Homo sapiens: one gene and its partner. The protein of the gene in region 2 interacts with the protein of the main gene of each other region in a biochemical or structural test. Each region holds a gene or a part of one and is shown on either strand. Other genes may lie near its edges.

What was found.
Region 1: the proteins of AP3M1 (region 2) and RUFY1 form a complex in vitro, tested with the Homo sapiens proteins (one study listed by BioGRID).

The regions. Positions count from the first base shown.
Region 1 is NC_000005.10:179,600,734-179,611,997, reverse strand, and holds the end of RUFY1 (RUN and FYVE domain-containing protein 1), read right to left. Parts: intron 10,107-11,264; coding exon 10,012-10,106; intron 9,935-10,011; exon of another isoform or gene 9,732-9,934; intron 9,622-9,731; exon of another isoform or gene 9,226-9,621; intron 8,392-9,225; exon of another isoform or gene 8,257-8,391; intron 6,123-8,256; coding exon 6,074-6,122; intron 4,417-6,073; coding exon 4,339-4,416; intron 3,714-4,338; exon of another isoform or gene 3,533-3,713; intron 3,509-3,532; exon of another isoform or gene 3,382-3,508; intron 2,623-3,381; coding exon 2,479-2,622; 3' UTR 1,986-2,478; downstream 1-1,985. UniProt on the Homo sapiens protein: Activating adapter involved in cargo sorting from early/recycling endosomes. Regulates retrieval of proteins from endosomes to the trans-Golgi network through interaction with the dynein-dynactin complex.
Region 2 is NC_000010.11:74,129,700-74,140,963, forward strand, and holds part of AP3M1 (AP-3 complex subunit mu-1), read right to left. Parts: intron 9,233-11,264; exon of another isoform or gene 9,107-9,232; intron 8,684-9,106; 5' UTR 8,681-8,683; coding exon 8,408-8,680; intron 7,105-8,407; coding exon 6,933-7,104; intron 4,466-6,932; coding exon 4,328-4,465; intron 294-4,327; coding exon 208-293; intron 1-207. UniProt on the Homo sapiens protein: Part of the AP-3 complex, an adaptor-related complex which is not clathrin-associated. The complex is associated with the Golgi region as well as more peripheral structures.

The DNA of each region.
Region 1 (11,264 bases), on a different chromosome or scaffold from region 2:
TTGTTGGTTTTGTCTTTGGCAGGTCTAGAGAACAGCAGTTGTCGGGGGAGGCAGTGTTGAGAGTTGTTGAGCTGTGTTCTAAGCTTGGTTACTGCCCTTGAGATCTTGCGTTAATAGTTTGGTACTGAGGCCCAGTATTGAGAAAGATTGAAGGTCCCTTCTCTGGGTTCTTTAGTTAACTGTGGTACATTTAAGGATAAAGCTTGCCCTGTTAGAGAAGGGAGTAGAACTAGAAACTTGGAGTAAGGTTAAACTAAATCCAGAGCCATACGGCTAGTCTAGGGCAGGGGCGGTGGCTAACGCCTGTGATTTCAACACTTTGGGAGGCTGAGGTGGGTGGATCACCTGAGGTCAGGAGTTCGAGACCAGCCTGGCCAACATGGTGAAACCCTGTCTCTGCTAAAAAATACAAAAATTAGCTGGGCATGGTGGTGCACGCTTATAATACCAGTTACTGAGGCAGAGGTTGCAGTGAGCCAAGATCGTGCCATTGCACTCTAGTCTGGGTAACGAGCGAAATTCCTGTCTCAAAAAAAAGTCTAGAAGCATTATGGTTCTTTGGAATCTTATGCTCCATAGCTTGTTTGCAGTAACTTAACCTCCTGACCTTGTCAGTTGGAATCTGCATTTTAAACAAAATCCTGACCACTCACCCCTACCTCAGTTGACTTGGGAAGTGCTGCCTTAAAATATCTATCTTTCATTTCTCAGGCCTGGGTAAAGGTGGTATGGTAGCAGACCAGGGACTGGAGATTCCAGAGTTAGGGCTTGGAATATATTTCAGTTTCTGAGTAGGGAAGTTATCTTGACCAAATATTGCCAACTTTGAAAATTTCACTTAAACACTTGTGTTTATACCCAAGTGTCAGGCACAGAGGTGGGAACCTCCTGCATGTTTTTATACTGAGCTGTCAGAACAGACTTGAAGTAGGGGAGGGATAGATTATTCTGCTTTTGTGTGTGCAGATGAGAGCTAAGACTCAAGTGAACTGACTTGCCTAAGGCTGCCCAGCAAGTTAGGGGTCCAAACTGGGTGTATTGAAAAGGCACAGATGTCATATATGCCAGTTAGGGGTAGTGAGTGATAGGCAGTTTTTTCTGAAAGTTTGGCCCTGTATGAGACGGCAGCTGTTACGGTGAGGGGTGAGGAAAGGGGAGGGCTGCCAATGTGCTTGCCTAATAGGGTTGGAACCCTGCTAGGACATGGCTTTGGAGCAGGGCGGACCTCGTCTTGAAGTCTGGCCGCACAGTCCTAAGCGGTATAGGATGGAGGGGGAATCCTTGAGTCTTGCCCAAGCTCCCACCTTTTCCATCTTCAGAGCGGTTTGAGGGGAGGGAGCGGCAGAGGAGGAATTCAGTTGAGGGTGCCATGCAAGCATCTACCAGGGCTGACCAGGTCGTGGGGGAGCCTGCTTCGGAGGAAGAGCCCAAAGGAGGAGTGGAATCCTGAGGCCTGGATTTGGCGAGGGTAGGAAGCCCGTGGGAAGGGAGGGTAGGGTCGCGGACAAGGTATGTGTATAGAAGGTGGAGAAGGATGAGGCCTGGAAGACTTGACTGTTGGCTGTCTGGACTTGATAATGCTGTTGTCTCTACCGGAAGGGAGCCCCGGGCCATTGGATCTTTGGGGGTGGGGGCCTCCGAGGGAGGGACTGGAAGCCAGTCGTAGCGCTGCATTTGAAATGTGAAAAATGGCTGCCTGGCACGTGCCTTTTCACAGGTGTCTCCATCTGTAACCTATCAAACTCCCAACTATGTACGTGAACGACTCTTGCACTTTGGTGACAGGCTTGGGGTCACCTCCTCTGCCTGTTGACGGCAGGCTGACCCTGCAAACTGCCCTTGGCTCACCAGGCTGCCCTGCAGGCTCTGGGGCAGCACCAGCAGCCTCTCACTCACACGGGGCTCGGGCACGAGGGGCGCTCTGAGGCCTCCTCCGGTGCGGTGGGCTCTTTGGAAGTTGACACAAGCTTCTGCACGCACCAGAGTGAAAAATAAATGATTTTATTGCAGGGCCAATGATAGGTAGTCACAAGGGCATGAAATGGCAGATCTCTTGTCTGAAGCAGAGAAGGCACACTGGCAGACTCCATGTGTGTCAAACGCTGTGCATGAATCAGGTTTTTAGAAGGAAGGTAGGAGAGGAAAACTACTCACTAGCAGAACTGAACTGCTGTAAAATAGGTTAAATTCTTTGAAAAGTGAAAAATGATAGTAGCAAAATCATGAAGTTGTATCTGAACCAGAGCCGTGATGTAACCAAGTAAGATGGAAGTTTCCATCCAGAGGAGTTAATTCCGAACAAGTCACAGAAAGGTGAGAGCTGCCGGTTCCGGCACGCTGTCTTCTGGAGTGCCAGTGACCGGGCAAGAAATTTGATTCTTTCCTTTGATACTCTTGGGAAAGAACACATTTCCCAAGCCCCTGGAGACCCACAGGGTTTGGCACTGTCCGTGAGGCTGTGCTCCTGAGGACGGACGTTCAGGAGGCCGTGGAGGAGCAGCGCTGCAGGAGCAGGGTGTGGCAGCTGTCGCACACTCGCACCGGCTTGGGGTAGGAGGGCAGGGCCAGCTCGTTGCTGGAGCAGGTGTTGCAGAAGATGTGGCCACAGTTCCGGCAGTGGTGCTACAGGACGGGAAGAAGGCGGTCACAGGACACCCGGGGAAAAGCCATCCGCACACCCTCCCTGCTTCCTGACCCAGAAGCGCATCATTTGCTGGGAATGGGTTCTTATGTTTCTGTGGGGTGGTGAGGGGCTGTGTGCAAACAAGGGTCTTTTTTTTTTTTTTTTTTTGAGATAGAGTCTTGCTCAGTCGCCCGGGCTGCAGTGCAGTGGCGCGATCTCAGCTCACTGCAAGCTCTGCCTCCCAGGTTCACGCCATTCTCCGGCAGTAGCTGGGTCTACAGGTGCCCGCCACTATACCTGGCTAATTTTTTGTATTTTTAGTAGAGACGGGGTTTCACCATGTTAGCCAGGATGGTCTCGATCTCCTGACCTCGTGATCTGCCTCCGCCTTGGCCTCCCAAAGTGTTGGGATTACAGGCGTGAAACACCGCGCCCGGCTTTTTTTTTTTTTTTTGAGTCTCTGTCGCCCAGGCTGGGGTGCAGTGGCGCAATCTCGGCTCACTGCAACCTCTGCCACCTGGGTTCAAGCGATTCTCCTGCCTCAGCCTCCCAAGTAGCTGGGATTACAAGTGCCTGCCACCGTGCCCGGTTAGTTTTTGTATTTTTTTAGTAGAGATGATGGGGTTTCACCATCTTGGCCAGACTGGTCTTGAACTTCTGACCTCGTGATCCACCCACCTCAGCCTCCCAAAGTGCTAGGATTACAGTCATGAGCCACCGTGCCCGGCCTAAGGGTGTTTTTAAGACAAAAAGTTTACTTTTGCTGTACTTCATCACTAAGCCAGTGAGCTGCTAGTCCATGTTACAGGAAGAGTCTGGTTCGTTCTCTTTGCTGCATTCCAAGGGGGTGGAGTAGATCCCTTTCTAAACAGGTTCCCTGGGTGCCTGATAAGACATCAAGATGAGCACCTGTGCAGCCTCTGCTTCTGACTCCACAGATGGGGACAGCCAGGCCTTGTAGACACATGTGATCTCAAAGGCAGCCTCAGGACGTGGTTTCTAGCTCTGAGCTTACTGCAAGGCACTGCCTGAAACTCGGGTTGGGGAGCGGGTGGGGTAGCTGTGGCTTCCTCTCTTCCACAGAGCTAGGCTGTTGATGGGAACAGACAGAACATGGCTGTGGCAGAAAGGTGGGTGGCGCTGGCAGTGTTTCCTTTAGCTCCCAGTTTTGCTTATACCCAACTCTTCCCCTACCCAGCTGGTCTTGGTGAGACTGTTAATAAGGCCCAGTCAACCCTAGACCCAAGGGTGAGCCTAGGACCTTGTTTCCAGAACCTAAAGGGCAGGGGCAAGCACGCTGCCTAGATCACTAGTGATTTTTGGTGACCTGCTGCCCTGTAGGTTCCCCATAGATTGTTTTTGCCTAAGTTGGGCCAGATTTTGTTCCTGCCGCATACAGAGAATTTTCAATGACACTCCCCTAGAGCAGCTCTGCACACAAGGAGCCCCATCTCCCCAAAAATCATTGTCAATCACTGAAAGGATGTGCTGGAGACCAGGGGCCTATGACTGGCCAAGGCCTCCCAGAAAGAGGGTGCCAGGATGGAAAGCCATCTGCACAGGCAAACAGGAGAGGCGGGGCTGCCCATCTGCCACAGTCAGCACAGTCACCGGGCAGTGAGCCTGCTCTGATATGGGCTTCTGGAACCAGAGAAAGGGGAATCCAGCGGGCAACGACTCAGGGCACTGGGAGGGTGGGTGGAGCCCCCACGTACCTTTCTCCGGGAAATGGAGAACTCCTTCTCACACTGCCTACAGTGTGTCGCTTCGTCATCTTTCAGCCAGGCGTGGCCCTGAAGAGGAAAGGACATTCTAGAATCCACTTTCTGTCTAAGCCCCTGATGAGTGGGTAGCTGCGTTCTGGCCACATCCATTGTCCCTCATAGCACCTGTTTCCTAGTGAGGCACTGTTTCTCCATCAGATGGGGCCTCACAGGACTGTCATCAAGGGGCTCTTTCCCCGTCTGGCCGCAGCCGGGATTTCTGCATCCTAGCTCCGTGCTCCACCTCTTGGCCTCTGCAGGCTGCCCTGGGGCCTCCAGGCGGTCTCCAGCATCTGCTCACTCAGGCACACTCCCACTTTCAATCAGTTCCCTTTGGCTGAAGTAAGCAGAGCGAGCTTCTGGTGCCTGCAACCCTAGACCCTGCCTGAGACACTGGCCGAAGTGCTAGCTGAACTGGCAGGCGCGGAAGAAGGGCCAAATCTGAGTGAGACTAAGACACTTGTTGACGCTGATCCTTGTGGAGAGACAGAAGGTGATGGACAGCGGGCACTGCGTCCCACAGGCCTGAGGAAGCCCTTCTCCATGCGGGCCAAAGCCCTGATTCTTGACCAGCCCTGGGGAGCACATGGACTCCATTCCACAGGGGAGGCGGCTGAGGCTTTGAAAGGTGGCCCCTCAGAGGGCTTTCTCAGGGCGAAGCAGCACCTGTGATTTATTTGGGCTTAGGGACTGGGGTGTTCCAGAGAAGTCAAAGGCATGAGGTACTTTTCTGGCCTGTTAACATCTGCTGGACAAGATTTTCTTGCTGACAAATAGATCCTCACAGACTGAGCTAGAGCCATATACCCTTGGGGCTGCCAGTGTGTGCCCAGGACATTCATCCTGACATCAAAGAGCTCTGGCGGCTCTAGAGTCCTGTTTTATGATTTCTATCCTCTGATGCTGTGAAACTGATATTACCTAGAAGTCCCGGCTGCTGTTAGTTGCTGCCCCTGACCTGGCACTTGGAAGTTAGATGCCCAGAGACATCAGGGTCCCTGCTCTGCACCACGTGGAACAGTGTGCAAAGGGACTGCTTTTGCATTGCTGCCACGGCACAGCTGAGGCCGAAGCGGGGTGCTCCTGCAGGCAAGGCTGTCTTGAAGGCCAGGCTGCCGTGCCCCCGAATGTCTGCCTCCTCTCCCACACTCTCCGCCCTGCAGCTCAGCCTGGCACCCGCACCCACACCGGGCCACCTGCAAACTCCTGCTTTTCGGTGGAATGTGTCATTCTGCCCTCCCCACCAGGGTGCGGAAACCTGGCCCAACTCAGGGCTTGGCTTGAGTGGTCCCTAGCAATGGCACAGGGCACTGCAGTGGGGCTGGCTGGCCTCTGGCCCCTCACTTCAACAGAAGGGCCTGTTTTCCACTGTTTAAAGATATCCGCGGGTCCCTCCTCTCCGCCACCTGCTTCCCCCTTAGGGAATGCCCATCAGGCCTATTTTGAAAGCACAGCTGATGGTGGAGGAACTGGAGTCGGAAGACCTAGGCTCAGCTTCGGCCACCTGTCAGCATCGCCCTCAGCCGAGGGACACGTTTCTGAGCAGCGTTTGGCTTCTCTGTCAATACGTCATCACCACTGCCTCAACCACACGCTCTCACCTGACTGTTGGGATACTTAAACGTACGAGCACACGGGCAGTCAGCACAAGCTGACAGCAAAGAAGTGGTTCTTAGCAAGGCAGTACCTTCAGTGCCTGGTTCACTTCTTTTATATCTTCCATCTTCAGCTTGGACCTAAGGAAAAAAAAAAGGCCATTTCATAGCAGTGAGAGAGAGTGAGGCTCTGAATCCCTAACACAGCTGGCTCTCAGGACTAGCTTTGTGAGGATACCGGACTTGTGAGGAGACCCAGAACGTGAGTTGTTAAAATGCCTTCCGCCTCTGTACAATCCCAGAGTTGCCTCATCACACTGGCTCCCGTCTGCTGAGGGCTGAGGCTGAGCCTGGGACTGCATCTGGCACGAGAACACACTGCTTAGCCTGCAGGGGCTCAAAAAGACTTTGAGGGAGGCTGAGGCGAGAGGATGGCCTGAGGCCAGAAGTCCAAGACCTGGCCCTGTTCTGCACTAGTCTCTACCGCTCTCCCCAGCAGGAACCTGAGTCTGCAGGCTTCTCCCCGGCCTCCATTCTGCTGCCTGCTGTCTGGAAGGGGGAAGGCTCAGATGGCATAGCCATTTGTTCTTGCTCCATTCTTGTTCAGTGTCAGAACAATTCCTTTGTTTACACAAGAGACAGGACTGAACATGGTCTAAATTGGCAGAACTAAACCAAATAAAATGAAGCAGTTTGTGCAATTGAGGGAAACAGTCTGATCCTTTTTTTTTTTTTTTTGAGACAGGATCTTGCTATATTGCCCAGGCTGGAATGCAGTGGTGCAATCATGGCTCACTGCAACCTTGACCTCCTGGGCTCAAGTGATCCTCTCACTTTAGTCTCCCAAGTAGCTGCGACTACAGGTGCATGCCATCACGCCTGGCTAATTTTTGTATTTTTTCTAGAGGTGGGGTTTTGCCATGTTGCCCAGGCTGGTCTTGAACTCCTGACCTCAATTGACCCACCTGCCTCAGCCTCCCAAAGTGCTAGGATTATAGGCCTGAGCCTTTTTCTTTTTTTCTTTTTTTTTTTTGAGATGGAGTCTTGCTGCATTGGCCAGGCTGGAGTGCGGTGGTGTGATCTCGGCTCACTGCAACCTCTGCTTCCTGGGCTCAAGCAATTCTCCTGCCTCAGCTTCCCAAGTAGCTGGGATGACAGGCGCCCGACACCACACCCAGCTTATTTTCTTGTACTTTTACTAGAGATGGGGTTTCACCATATTGGCCTGGCTGGTCTTGAACTCCTGACCTCAAGTGATCCACCTGCCTCGGCCTCCCAAAGTGCTGGGATTAGAGGCCTGAGCCCCCACGCCCAGCCTGGCCTGGGTCTTTCTTAAAAGCTGAGATCAGTCTGAACTATCATCAGATTAGACTCATCTCAGTGACAAAATGGCAGGTCTCTGGGAAACACAGGCTAGACTTCGAAGGGAGGGATTAGAAAACAGCATCAGGGCATTTAGAAAAATCCCTGTGGCTTTTACTAAAGATCGGGAGGCAGCTCCTTCCCTTCCTGGTCCGGCTGCAGAAACAGGAAATAGGCCAGCAGATTGACAGGATGAGAAGAGGCTGCGCAGATGGACAGACCTTGGGAAGCCAGGTCAACAAGGCAAACTGAACATACAAGAACTCTGGGAAACACAATTTAGGAAGAATCCAGATGTTCCCAAGCCAATGAAACTGGAAACTGTTCCTGTAGCTAATGTAGGGCCTGCGAAGAGGCTTTGCCATCTCTGTCATCCGGTATAGGCTTGCAAGAGGAAGAAGGGAAGAGGGGAGAGAGCACAAAAGCAACTCCTCAGGTAGTCCTGTCTGGGTTTGCAAACACCTGATGCTGTGACACCCACAGCACTCACTGGGAGGGAATGGTGGCCAGGCAGCTCACACTGGGATTTGGAAGCTAGGTTAGCCGGTAGTGCCAGGCGGCCACAAAGTGCAACAATACATTTGTTTGTTTGTTTTTGAGACAGAGTTTCACTCTTATTGCCCAGGCTGGAGTGCAATGGCGCGATCTCGGCTCACCGCAACCTCCGCCTCCCAGGTTCAAGCGATTCTCCTGCCTCAGCCTCCTGAGTAGCTGGGATTACAGGCGCGCTCCACCATGCCCGGCTAATTTTATATTTTTAGTAGAGATGGGGTTTCTCCACGTTGGTCAGGCTGGTCTTGAACTCCTGACCTCAGGTGATCCACCCACCTCAGCCTCCCAAAGGGCTGGGATTACAGGCATGAGCCACCACACCCGGCCACAATGATACATTTTAAAGATCAGAGACCAACCACAGTTTCGAGGTCTATGGTCCACTAGGAGGGGACCTGTGACACTGCCTTGCTGTCCATCCAATGTAAAGAGGAAAACACTGGCTGCAAACCCCAGAAGCCAGCTCCACGCCAGCTCTGTTCCACGTCTGCTTCTGGTGAGTGCTCTCGGGATGCCCTCACAGCTGGCCTATGCTCTGAGCATGGGGACAGACACTGGGCCTTGCGTCCCTCAAGGAGCTCCCTGGGGGTTGGGAAGGAACGGGCCAGAGCACGGCAAGTTGACAGGCCAGACGGGAGCAGCACAGGGCACTCAGCTGAGTGGGTGGCAGGCAGGGCGGAGGGTGGGAGGGGAGGAAGCAGCGGCCATGGGCTAGTCTAGAAAGGTAAGAGGCACAGGAGAGACGGCGAGTGGCCAGCACCTGCATCTGGGAGTGGGCAGACCGCATTCCCACCAGAGACATCAGATTCCCTGACCAGCTATTTGTTTTTTTTTTTTGAGATGGATTCTCACTTTTGTTGCCCAGGCTGGAGTGCAGTGGTGCAATCTCGGCTTACTGCAACCTCTGCCTCCCGGGTTCAAGCGATGCTGCTGTCTCAGCCTCCCGAGTAGCTGGGATTACAGGTGCCCACCATGCCTGGCTAATTTTTGTATTTTTAGTAGAGACGGGGCTTCACTATGTTGGCCAGGCTGGTCTCGAACTCCTGACCTCAGGTGATCTGCTCACCTCAGTCTCCCAAAGTGCTGAGATTACAGGCGTGAGCCACCGCACCCGGCCTATTTTCTTAATAGTACTAGACTCTACAAATTTCTGGTGCAGACCAGGCTGTGCTGAGGTCGTGAGCCCCATCTCCTTGGTCATGGTGCTTATGTCAGGCATGGGTACTCGGGAGCAGGGTCAATCTCGGGTGATCCTGGCAGCTATGCACAAAGAAGAGGGAGTTTGTTCCTCTGATAGATGGCCTTGCTGAGTGCTGTTTTGCCCCTGCAGGGTCCAGACCCACCTGTGAGGCAGACAGGATAGCAGAGGTAGGAGACAGAGACCGATTCCTGATGGCTTCTTTTGCTTAAGCCACTTTGAGTTGGATTTCTGTTACTTGCAACCATGCGCCCTGACTCGAGGAGAAAAGCTACCCACTATGTTGAAAATGCAGAATCATCACACAAATGGGCAAGTTCCACAGTCCGCAGTGTGATCCACCCCAAGGCCCAGGCGTCCACAGCAACCTATCTAGACTGGGACACCAAGGAGGAGAGCTGTCAAGTCAGAGGGGAGCAGAACTACCAGGGTCTGCACCCCATCAGCACCTGCAGCAGAGACAGACAGACTCTGGCGGATGCAGTGGCCAGTTCCCCGAAAGGAAGGGGGCTGTGCTGTGCAAGGCGGGTGAGTGCACCTCTACTGTGCCAGGCTTCCGTTCCCAAACCAGCCCTGCTCCCTCTGGCCTGACTGTAGGCTGACCAAGCGATCCTCTCATTGCCCATCTGTTCCCTCAGGCCCTGGATATGAAGCTAAGGAATAGGAGTGTCCTGGTCACTAGGAATGAACGTGCTTCCTGAATTAACTAAGAGCTCGCTGACACCCCATGTGGGTAGCAGAGATCAGTGCTGGGCCCCTCTGAGGCCGGGCTTCCTGAGAGCTCATCCGTGAACGGCGGACTGAGCTCCTAAATGGCCCACCCTCCGTTCGCCAAAAGGAGGTAGGTTTGGGGCCTGAGGGATGTGGTGGGTAGCCTGGTGTGCCTGCAGTGGCAGACAAGGGGAGTGGGGTTCTTACTGGCTGAGGTGCAGGCCCATTTCCTGGAGGGCTTGTTCCTGCTCCTCGCAGATCTTCTGCAGCTCTGCCTTCTCGTCCTGAAGCTCCCGCAACTCCTAAAATGAACAAACCAACCAGATGCTGGACAGAGGATTACACGGTCCTTTTTTTTTTTTTTTTTTTTTTTTTTGAGACAGGGTCTTGCTCTGTTGCCAGGCTGGAGTGCAGTGGCACGATCTTGGCTCACTGCAACCTCCGCCTCCTGGGTTCAAGCGATTCTCCTGCCTCAGCCTCCCAAGTAGCTGGGACTACAGGTGCCCGCCACCATGCCCTGCTAATTTTTGTATTTTCAGTAGAGACGGGGTTTCACCATGTTGGCCAGGATGGTCTCAAACTCCTGACCTCGTGATCTGCCCGCCTCGGCCTCCCAAAGTGCTGGGATTACAGGCGTGAGCCACTGCACTGGCCTTTAAAAAAAAAAAAAAGATTCAGCAACCAGAGCAACAAGCAGATCAGAATGTTTTTCAAGAGCAAAAGGTGGCCAGGCACAGTGGCTTATGCCTATACTTCCAGCACTTTGGGAGGCCAAGACAGGTGGATCACCTGAGGTCAGGAGTTTGAGGCCAACCCGGCCAACATGGTGCAACCCTGTCTCCACTAAAAATACAGAAATTAGCTGGGTGTGGTGGCAGGCACCTGTAATCCCAGCTACTTGGGAGGCTGAGGCAAGAGAACTGCTTGAACCCGGGAGGCGGAGGTTGCAGTGAGCCGAGATGGTGCTACTGTACTCCAGCCTGGGCGACAGAGCAAGACTCCATCTCAAACAAAACAAAACCAAAAAAAAGAGCAAAATGCAGTCCTGTATTAATGTCATTCAAGATTATTTCTTGCTAGCTTACTCTTGACACTGGGCAGCTAAAAGGCAAGCACTCGACGAGGGCTCTGCAGCTGGGGACAGAGACATGGGACAGGATAGTTACATTCATCAGCCACATTAAAAATAGTTACCCTCAGCTGGGCGCAGTGGCTCACACCTGTAATCCCAGCACTGGGAGGCTGAGGTGGGCGGATCACCTGAGGTCAGGCATTCAAGACCAGCCTGGCCAACATGGCAAAACCCCTCCTTTAGTTAAAAATACAAAAATTAGCAGGGCATGGTGGCACATGCCTGCAATCCCAACTACTCGGGAGGCTGAGGCAGGAGAATCGCTTGAACTGGGGAGGCGGAGGTTGCAGTGAGCCGAGATCACACCACTGCACTCCAGCCTGGGCAA
Region 2 (11,264 bases):
CACACTCAGGCAAAGACCTCCCTTAGTCTTTCCACAAAGACCACGCTCATCATGTAAGCGACTGTCTTAGGAAACTCTGCTAGGAATATTTCTGAGATAATCCTTTGCAATCTAAGATGCAAACTTATCTCAATATTTATCATTTCATTTAGTACTTCACATGTATTAGGCATTCAAGGGGCTATAAAACAGGAGAATAAAACTTACCATGAAAGAAAGGGAGAGATCAGGCATTCCAGATAGTTTAATGCAAGCATCAATGACCCCCTGAATTTCTGCAAAGACTGTAGATCCTGAAGAAAGAAAAAAAAAAGGAAGATAACATCAATGGAATATGAGTCTTCACTAGACCTATCACTGTATCTTTTTATTTTTATTTATTGTTTTTAGAGACAGAGTCTTGCTCTGTTGCCAAGGTTGGAGTGCAGTTGTATGATCATAGCTCACTGCAGCCTCACTCCTGGGCTCAAGTAATCCTCCTGCCCTAGCCTCCCAAATAGCTGGGAATATAGGTGCGTGCCATGACACCTAGCCCAACAATCACTACATCTAGAACAATAGAGATACCCTCTGGGTGTCAGATTAACTGAAGCTTTACATCTCTATTAACAGGTCAGGGGACAAGGTCCATACTTAACTCTGGCTGGAATATAATAATAATTCTTTTATTTTTAAGAGATAAAGTCTGACTAGCTAGTCCCAGCTGGTCCCCAGAGTAACTGAGACTACAGGTATGCCACTGTAGAATATAATTTTTTTTTTTTTGAGACAGGGTCTTGCTCTGTCACCCAGGCTGGAGCGTAGTGGTGCTATGATAGCCAGCCTCAACCTCCTGGGCTCAAGCAATCCTCCCACCTCAGCCTCCCAAGCAGCTGGTACTACAGGCATGCACCTCCACGCCTGGCTAATTTTTGTATTTTTTTTGTAGAGACAGGGTCTTGTTATGTTGCCCAGGCTGGTCTCAAACTTCTGGGCTCAAGCAATCCGCCTACCTTAGCTTCCCAAAGTGCTGGGATTACAGGTGTGAGCTACCATACCCAGCCAGAATATGCTAATTCTAAGGAAAATTAAACTGTTTCCTTTATGGAGCCAACCCTGTAAGATGACTGGATATGAGTTTAAAACATTTGGCAGGACGCAGTGGCTCATGCCTGTAATCCTAGCACTTAGGGAGGCTGACGTGGGTAGATTATCTGAGCTCAGGAGTTTGGGACCAGCCTGGGCAACATGGCAAAACCCCGTTTCTACTAAAAATACAAAAAATTAGCCAGGCGTGGTGGTGTGTGCGTGTAGTCCCAGCTACTTGGGAGGCTGAGGCAGGAGAATCGCTTGAACGTAGAAGGCGGAGGTTGCAGTGAGCTGAAACCACAACACTGCACTACAGCCTGGGCGACAATGTGAGACTCTGTCTCAAAAACAAAATAAAACAAACCAACCAAAACCATTTTCAATAGAATTTTATTTTTTTTTAATTTTTTTTTTGAGACGGAGTCTTGCTCTGTCACCCAGGCTGGATGGAGTGCAGTGGCGCTATCTGGGCTCACTGCAAGCTCTGTCTCCCGGGTTCACGCCATTCTCCTGCCTCAGTCTCTCGAGTAGCTGGGACTACAGGCGCCTGCCACCACACCCAGCTAATTTTTTGTATTTTTAGTAGAGATGGGGTTTCACTGTGTTAGCCAGGATGGTCTGGATCTCCTAACCTCGTGATCCACCCGCCTCAGCCTCCTAAAGTGCTGGGATTACAGGTGTGAGCCACCGCGCCCGGCTTCAATAGAATTTTAAAATGTGGCAAGTGTATTATGAAATGGACTAAGTTAACTTTTAAGAAATAGGATCCATAATAGAAAGATATCTCTTTTTTTTTAAGAGACAGGGTCTCCCTCTGCCATCCAGGCTGGAGTACAGTGGTGTGAACATAGTTCACCACAGCATTGAACTCCTGGGCTCAAGCAATCCTCCTGCCTCAGCCTTCTGAATAGGTAGGATTAAGGAAGCCATGCCTAGCTAATCTTTTAAATTTTTGATAGATATGGGGTCTTGCTATGTTGCCTAGGCTGGTCTTGAACTCCTGGGCTCAAGTGATCTTCCTGCCTAAGCCTCCCAAAGTGCTGGGATTACAGGTGTGAGCCACCGTGCCTGGCAAAAATCTATTATTCTATAAGATGGAATGTTATAATGAAAAGGGGACTCATGGAAGAGAAGATATTGACTATAATTCACAATAAGCCATCATTACATATTAACAAGTTGTGTGACCTGGAACAGTTCACTTAACCCTTCTGGGCTTTCCTTATGTGTAAAATAAATGTAAAGGAAGGACTAGATTTTTTTTCTTTTTTCTTTTTTTGTTTTTTTAGAGATGGAGTCTCACTCTGTCACCCAGGCTGGAGTGCAGTGGTGCAATCTTGGCTCACTGCAACCTCTGCCTCCCAGGGTCAAGCAATTCTCCTGCCTCAGCCTCCCAAGTAGCTGGGTTTACAGGCGCCTGCCACCACGCCCAGCTAATTTTTGTATTTATAGTAGAGACGGGGTTTTACCATGTTGGCCAGGCTGGTCTCAAACTCCTGACCTCAAGTGATCTGCCTGCCTCGGCCTCCCAAAGTGCTGGAATTACAGGCGTGATCCACCATGCCCGGCTGCTATTTTTAATAATAAAATTTTACGATTCTTATAGAGTACTATTGTTTTGTCTGGTTAAAAAGATAATCAGATTGGGTGTGGTGGCTGATGCCTGTAATCCCAGCACTTTGGGAGGCTGAGGTAGGTAAACTGATTGAGCCCAGGAGTTCAAGACCAGCCTGGGCAACATGGTGAGACCCTGTCTGTACAAAAAAAACAAATAAAAGTTAGCCAGGCATGGTGGCGTGTGGCGTGTACCTCCTGATTGGCTGGGACTATAGGCTACTCAGGAGTTTGAGGTAGGAGGATCACATGAGCTGGAGGTCAAGGCTACAGTAAGCAGGGACTGCGCCAATGCACTCCAGCCTAGGCAAAAGAGCAAGACCCTGTACTTAAAAAAAAAAAAGAAAGTGAAAAATAATCAGATAGGGGCTTTTACCAGAAGTACTGCACATAATGTAGTAGCAAAAGCATGGTATATAGCAGATTTTCAATAAATGTTAGAAGGAATAAATAGCAAGAGGTAGAGGTACATAGGGTAATAATTGGCTTAAAGTAAGGCATTATGAGTTCTGATTTACATGTTTGGCAGACCTCAACTAGTGGTTATGAAAATTATATGTAACCTATGGGCAAAATAAACAGATTTATGGGCCAGGTGCAGTGGCTCACGCCTGTAATCCCAGCCCTTTGGGAGGCCAAGGCAGGTGGATCACTTGAGGTTAGGAGCTTGAGACCAGCCTGGCCAACATTGTGAAACCCCGTCTCTACTAAAAATACAAAAAATTAGCCAGGGCCGGGAGCGGTGGCTCACGCCTGTAATCCTAACACTTTGGGAGGCCGAAACGGGCAGATCACCTAAGTTCAGGAGTTCGAGACCAGCCTGACCAACGTGGAGAAATCCCATCTCCACCAAAAACACAAAATTAGCTGGGCATGCTGGTGCATGCCTGTAATCCCAGGTACTCGGGAGGCTGAGGCAGAAGAACTGCTTGAACCCGGGAGGCGGAGGTTGCGGTGAGCTGAGATTGCACCATTGCACTCCACCCTGGGCAATAAGAGTGAAACTGCGTCTCAAAAAAAAAAAAAAAATTTAGCCAGGTGTGGTGGCTCATGCCTGTAATCCCAGCTACTTGGGAAGCTGAAGCAGCAGGATCGCTTGAATCCAGGAGGTGAAGGTTCCAGTGAGCCAAGATCATGTGATTGCACTCCAGCCTGGACAACAGTGTGAGACCCCGTCTCAAATAAATAAATAAATAAACAAACAGATTTAAAAATCATCAGATAATGAATGCCTTTCCACCGAAACCATACTGCCAAAGGACTTCAATTTTCTTTTCCTTTCTTCTTCTTTTTTTTTTTTTTGTTGAGACAGAGCCAGGCTGGAGTGCAATGGCATGATCTTGTCTCATTGCAACCTCTGCCTCCTGGGTTCAAGCAATTTTCCTGCCTCAGCCTCCCGAGTAGCTGGGATTACAGGTGCGCGCCACCATGCCCGGCTAATTTTTTGTATCTTTAGTAGAGACAGAGTTTCACCATGTTGGCCAGGCTGGTCTCGAACTCTGACCTCATGTTCCGCCTGCCTTGGCCTCCCAAAGGGCTGGGATTACAGGCGTGAGCCACCGCGCCCGGCCAGGACTTCAGTTTTCTATTCATCTGTGTCAGATGAATTGTTTTTCCCCAAATAAGATGACATGCACACAATTACCTGATTTATCTATAATTGCGTCTATTTCTTCAACAACATCAAAATAGGCTTCATTGTTTGTGTACTTTACCCCTGCCCGACGCCATGGTATGTTGGACAGCTGCCCGGTGGGGAGTGTGTCCCCAACATTACTACTGCCTAGAAACCAAAAAAGGAGAAGGCAAAGCTGATGTATAAAACAGTCATGAGAAAATTTATTACTAGGAAAAAAAAAGCTGCTTCTTCAATGTTTGGATTTTTCTTAATGAAGTTGTGGATGGTCACTAGAATTGTCAGACATATCCATACCAACATGATCAAATTTCTAGAAAAGAAATATAGGCCATGTGGCCCTCTGTCTACCTGCCAAACCAGGTTAAATTTATTTACTTATCTTTTGCCTCCTGTGTGTTAACAGTAATCTAATCTAATTCCAGTGGCTCAACAACAGAATCTCTGCCACTGATGAAAAAAGAGGTTGGTTGTTTCAAAACCTTCTGCCAATAAAATGTCTCCAGTGAGAATACAGAGTTATAACTAGGCCCTTCAGTATTCAACTTTATTTTACATGAGATGCTGCCAAGCACGCCTCAGTGGAGTAAATGGAATCTGGCCTTTTCCTATTTTAAGGTCAGCATACCCATACGGCTGCAATATAGCTAGTATTCAGTATCCAGCTCATTTCCTGGTAAACTGACACATGCCTAAAAATAAGTCTGGTTGTCCAAAACACATATCTTTGAGCTGTGACTTACTTAATATTTTGGTTAATTTATATTTCCCATTCGAAAGTACTACATACTTAACAACAACAAAAAGGTAGAGTTCAGAGAAGTGGTTTAAAGAAAAACACCTGTCTTCTTACTAACAAAATATATCTACCATTAACATTTTTGTTAATATTATGGTATTAACATTTTAATATAATATTAACATTTTGGTATATTTCTTTGAATATTTCCACCACCAGAAGGTTGCATTTTTTTCTATTTTGATAATTTTGGTTTTTAATTGCACTTTAAAATATAGTCGCAATCATACTGTATCTACAATTTTGCAGTCTACTTATGATTGGTGTTCCTACCTGCAACCTATAATCATGTTATCTTCCTGCTCAAAAACGTTCAATGTTTGCTCACTGGCTTTATGATAAAAGCTAAATATTTATCCTAGCTTTGAAGGACTTTCTCTACTTTTTAATTTGATCTCTAACTTCTCAAGTGAAAAACAGTTCTGCTTCTGCTAAAGGGATTAATAAAACTTTAGGTTTTTCTCTTTCATGTGTGTTTTTTTCTCATACAGTTCCACCATGGAGAATGCTCTTATTCCTTCCTCACTTCCTGAATTCTACTGATTTTCCAAGGTGGCCACCCACCACAGTTCAGGAGGGATTACTTCATTAATGGAACCATTCTCTTGAACTTTGTAATACACTATCTAATGAATCTGTTATGTTTTGCATTATATATTTTAGTAACTTTTCTCTGACTATAAAATACATGTTTATTTTGGAAAATTAGAAAGTATAAAGCAAAAATAAATATAATCTGTATTTAGCTGGGTATAATCATTGTAAATACTTTTTTGTCGGAGTGAATATTTATATATAAGAATAATTTTTTTCAGTTTTGTGCTGACTTTTCAATTTAACGTTACATCATGTGTATTTATTTTCCAATGCTATTACTTTATCTGTGAAGTATGGAATTGCTTTTTAAAGTCTTATACAGTTATTTACTTAATTTTTTTTCCAATGTCCCATTCAGAGTATAAGTTTTAGGAGTACAGACACACCATCTTATCTTTCTTTGAATTTCTCCTAACATTCGTCCTTACACAAAGGATGAATAAAGAGCTGCTGAATGATCTTTTTCTTATAGGCCTCTCTCACCTCATTTTTAGGTCAAGGCACTGGACAGGGGTTTACAATGGTTGACAGTGGAGTTGGAGTGGCATATAACATTTCATAGGAATCTTTGTCTAAAAGACTTTAATGCTTTCGAAAGAATATTGGTATCTGGATGTGCCTAATTTCTAGCTACACTCAAGAATTAAACCCAGCTGGAAGCTTACAACACAAGTACAGGCCCACAATGCATGAGATCTCATAAGTAAACTATTTCCTATTTTTTCTTAATACATCTTCTGAATGCATAAAAACAAAGACTTGGAGGAGATTGTAGTACTGTGTGGTTAAGCGTCTTAAATTTTCTATTCTCTAGTAATTGTGGAGTAGCAGCATACCAGTTATGTAATGCTATTTTAAATATTAAAATGCCAGTCTATAAATGGACTAAATTCTCTTCTAAGTGGGCTCATATACTGGCTTCTTTAGGAATAACTGGAACAATTTATTCAGTCTTAGTATTTAGTGTTAAATAATGGTAATAATATTGTTGTGGTGTTTTAGAAAAAAAAAAAGAGTAATAACCAAAAGTTCTTTATCACTTAAGGTCTAGCCTCTTTCCATGAAAATAAATATATAGTACATCCATTTTAACTTTACCAGTAACTTTAATTATGGCCAAATTGTACTACCTTAATAATATGTCAGATCATGAGCAATAATGAGTTGTTTACAAAGTTTTAATTGCTCAGTTACTAGCACAGTATGTTTTCATCTTACCTGTAATAGAGTTGACAACAGAGCGTAGAATTGTTGGTGGTTTAATCAATTCTTTCAAAATGTTAGATTCGGTAGCCAGTGGAAATCCATTGTCTAACATTTCTTCTAAGAGTTCATATACTATGACCACATTATCCTTAATTGCAGCCTCTGAACACTCACCAAAGTAGTCCTGACAAAATACACACAAAATATCACACAATGGAAGGCAAAAAGAAAGGCCTGCTAAATACTTTTTGTTCTGAAGAATAAACTTAGAGTAGCATAATTCATTGCTTAAGCTGCTGAACATATATAAAACAGAGCGGGGGAAAAAACCCTCTATAGTCCGGGCATGGTGGCCCATGCCTGTAATCCCAGCAATTTGGGAGGCTGAGGCGGATGCATCACTTGAGGTCAGGAATTCAAGACCAGCCTGGCCAACATGGTGAAACCCTGTCTCTACTAAAAATACAAAAATTAGCTGAGTGTGATGGTGCACACCTGTGGTCCCAGCTACTTGGGAGGCTGAGGCGGGAGGATTGCTTGAACCCGGGAGGCGGAGGTTGCGGTGAGCCAAGATCATGCTACTGCACTCCAGCCTAGGGAACAGAGTGAGACTCCGTCTCAAACAAAACAAAACAAAACAAAACAAAACAAGCAAACAAAAAAAACCCCTCTATAGTCCTAATATTATTCCTCAATATTTTCTTGATATTTCTAGGTTGAATTTAATTCCTATTACATATTATACCAGAAAGTATTGAAACATTAAATTGGAATTTGAGCTATAAACTTCATTCACCCTGATTATCCCAAAATACATATAGATAAGCTTAAATTATTTGGTATATTCCGCAAGACAAAATAATAAAATGTAAATATAGAAGAGTTCATAACCAATGAAAATCTTGAGACCATTGAGAGAACTGTATGCGGAGGGCATTATTGTTTCCTGATGATATACAGTCATCCCTTGGTATTTGTGGGAATTAGTTCCAGGATCCCCTGTAGATACCAAAGTTCACAATTCTCAAGTCGCTGACATAAAATGGCATAGTATTTGCACATAACTTATACACATCCTCCTATATACTTTAAATCACCTCTAGATTACTTGTAATATCTAACACAGTGTAAATGCTATGTAACTATTTGTTATACTGTATTGTTCAAGTAATAATGAGAAGAAGTTTGTACATGTTCAGTTCGATTTTTTTGTTCAAATATTTGCCATGTAAGGTTGGGTGACTTTATGGATGCAGAACCCATGTATATGGAGAGCCAACTGTAATCTGTAATACATATAAAAAATAGTGAATAGAGCAGCCATGTGTGTAACTGTATACCACACAGAAAAGGGCTTATGAATTTACGCTTAAACAGAGAGAGACAGACAGTAAACATCAAAACCTGGGTAATTAAATAATATAATCATGTCTCACCTTCAGCTAACTTGGGTCATTTAACTTAGAAAGGTATGATAGATAACCAACCTGAAAAGTGTCAGCAACTCGATGTAGGAACTCAATTACAAAGAGAGGTGGCACTTCGGTCTGTATGACAGATACAAAGAAGAGCTTATCCCGGTAGATACTGATGAGGTAGTGGTGAGGTGTTGAAATGACAGGTGGTACATTTTCAACATCAGCAGCTTTCTCTTGAGCTTCAAAGAAATAATCACAGACAGACTGGCTCACAACGCTCTTCCAGTGCTTCTCTAGAAATATGTCACCGGAACAGTTTATGAGAAATAGACTGTGGATCATTTTCTGTTGGGGCAAAGAAAGGTTTAAATTTATTATACATTAAATATCATTTAACATACACAAAAAGATTATACACCTTGACCAAGTGGGATTTATTCTAAGAATGCAAGGCTGGTTCAACATACAAAAATCAATCAACATGATATACAATAAGAACTAAAACAATCATTTCAAAAGGTGCAGAAATTGCATTTGACAAAATCCAACATCCTTTTACGAAAAAAAAAAAAAAAAAAGAAAGCCATTTAAGAACAAAAAGAAACTTCCTCAGCCAGGCTCAGTGGCACATGCCTGTAATCTCAGCACTTTGGGAGGCTGAGGTGGGCGGATTGCTTGAGCTCAGGAGTTTGAGACCAGCCTGGGCAACAGGGCAAAACATCATCTTTACAAAAAATACAAAAATTAGCCAAGCATGGTGGCACTTGCCTGTAGTCCTAGGTACTCAGGAGGATGAAGCAGGAGAATTGCTTGAGCCCAGGAGGAAGATCGACGCTGTAGAGAGCTAAGATTGCGCCACTGCACTCCAGCCTGGGTGACCAAGTGAGACACTATCTAAAAAAAAAAAAAAAAAAAAAAAAAATTTCCTTAACCTGATGAAAACCCCACAGCTAATATTATATTTAAAGGTGAAAGACCGAACACTTTCTCCTTAATAACAAAACCTAACAAGGATGCCCAGTCCCATCATTTCTATTCAACATGGTACTAGAGGTTTGAACCAGGGCAATTAAGCAAGAAAATAAAACAAAAGGCTTCCAAATTGGAAAGGAAGAAGTAAAACTGTATCTGTAGAAGATACAATCTTATATATAGAAAATCCTAAGGAATCCACACACACACAAAAAAAAACCTATTAGAGCTAATAAATTTAGTTCAGCAAGCTTGCAGGACACAAGTCAATATAAAAATCAATTATATTTCTATCCACTATAGCTATAAAATACTAAAAATGGGCTAGGCATTGTAACTCATGCCTATAAACCCAGCACTGTGGGAGGCTGAGGAAGGAGGATTGCTTGAGCTCAGGAGTTTAAGACCAGCCTATGCAACATAGTGAGACCTCATCTCTATTAAAAAAAAAAAAACAAAACAAAACTGAAAATGAAATAAAACAATTTCAGGCCGGGCGTGGTGGCTCATGCCTATAATCCCAGCACTTGGGGAGGCCGAGGCAGGTGGATCACCTGAGGTCGGGAGTTCAAGACCAGCCTGGCCAACGTGCAGAAACTCTGTCTCTACTAAAAAAAAAAAAAAAAGGCCAGGCGCGGTGGCTCACGCCTGTAATCCCAACACTTTGGGAGGCCGAGGTGGGTGGATCACGAGGTCAGGAGATCGAGACCATCCTGGCTAAGACGGTGAAACCCCGTCCCTACTAAAATTAGCCAGGCGTGGTGGCACGCACCTGTAGTCCCAGCTACTCAGGAGGCTGAGGCAGAAGAATCGCTTGAACCCGGGAGGCGGAGGTTGCAGTGAGCCGAGACTCAAGATTGCACCACTGTACTCCAGCCTGGGTGACAGATTGAGACTCCATCTCAAAAAAAAAAAAAAAAAAATCCCAGCTGCCTTTTCGTGGAATTTGACAGGCTAATCCTAAATTCATAAGGAATTGAAAAAGATCAACAGCCAAAACAATCTTGAAAAGGAACAACAGGGGCGAACGGGGTGGGGTGCGCCATTCCTCCCTGGCCAGGGTGCTTGGGAGCAGGGACCCCCACCTGCAGCTGAGCATCCTTCCTGGGAGCCACTCTGCTGTTCCAAGGACCTGGGAGGAGCCCTCGGTCCCCCGGGTGCCAGGGCCCTGGGGCGCACACATCCACCCCAGCCCGAGCCTGCGTTTCCTGAGCCAGGATCTGGGGCGAGATGGCTGCAGGCGGCCGTGCGCCCAAGCCCCACGTCCTCGTCTGCCTTGGGGCGCTCCTGGCCAGCTGGTCGCCGTAGGTTAAACTCACCTTACACCTGTAACCGGTGGACTTCCCTACATACCTTTGCAAGCCCTTCTGTGCCGACCAGCGCCTTCAAAGCGGGGTCTTCTGCCTTTACTTTTGGAAAAGCTTTTCATTTTGAAATACTTGGCTGACTTACAAAAGACTTCCCCTCACACTTGACATGATTGACAAAAGGTCTGAAATGCTTCATCTACAGTCTGATTTACTATGAAACAAGAATTGGGGGGATGCTTACAAAAATATGTAGAATTAAAAAGATTGAAAAAATATATATATTTGAATTAAAAAAAAAAAGGAACAACGAAGATGGATAACTCGTGCTTCCTGATTTCAAAACTTACTACAAAACTACTATGTGGTATTGGCACAAGGACAGACCTACAGATCAATAGAACATTAACCCTTACATTTATGGTCAACTGATTTTCAACAAGGGTGCCAAGACCTGGGTGACCAGTTGGAGAGAGAACAACCTTTTCAACAAATGGTACTGGAACAACTGGATTTCCACATACAAAAGAATGAAATTGGATACAAAAAGCAACACAAAATGTATCAAAGACCTAATTGGAAAAGCCAAAATGATAAAACTCTTAGAAAAAATATGCATAGATTTTGACTCTGGATTAGACAATGTT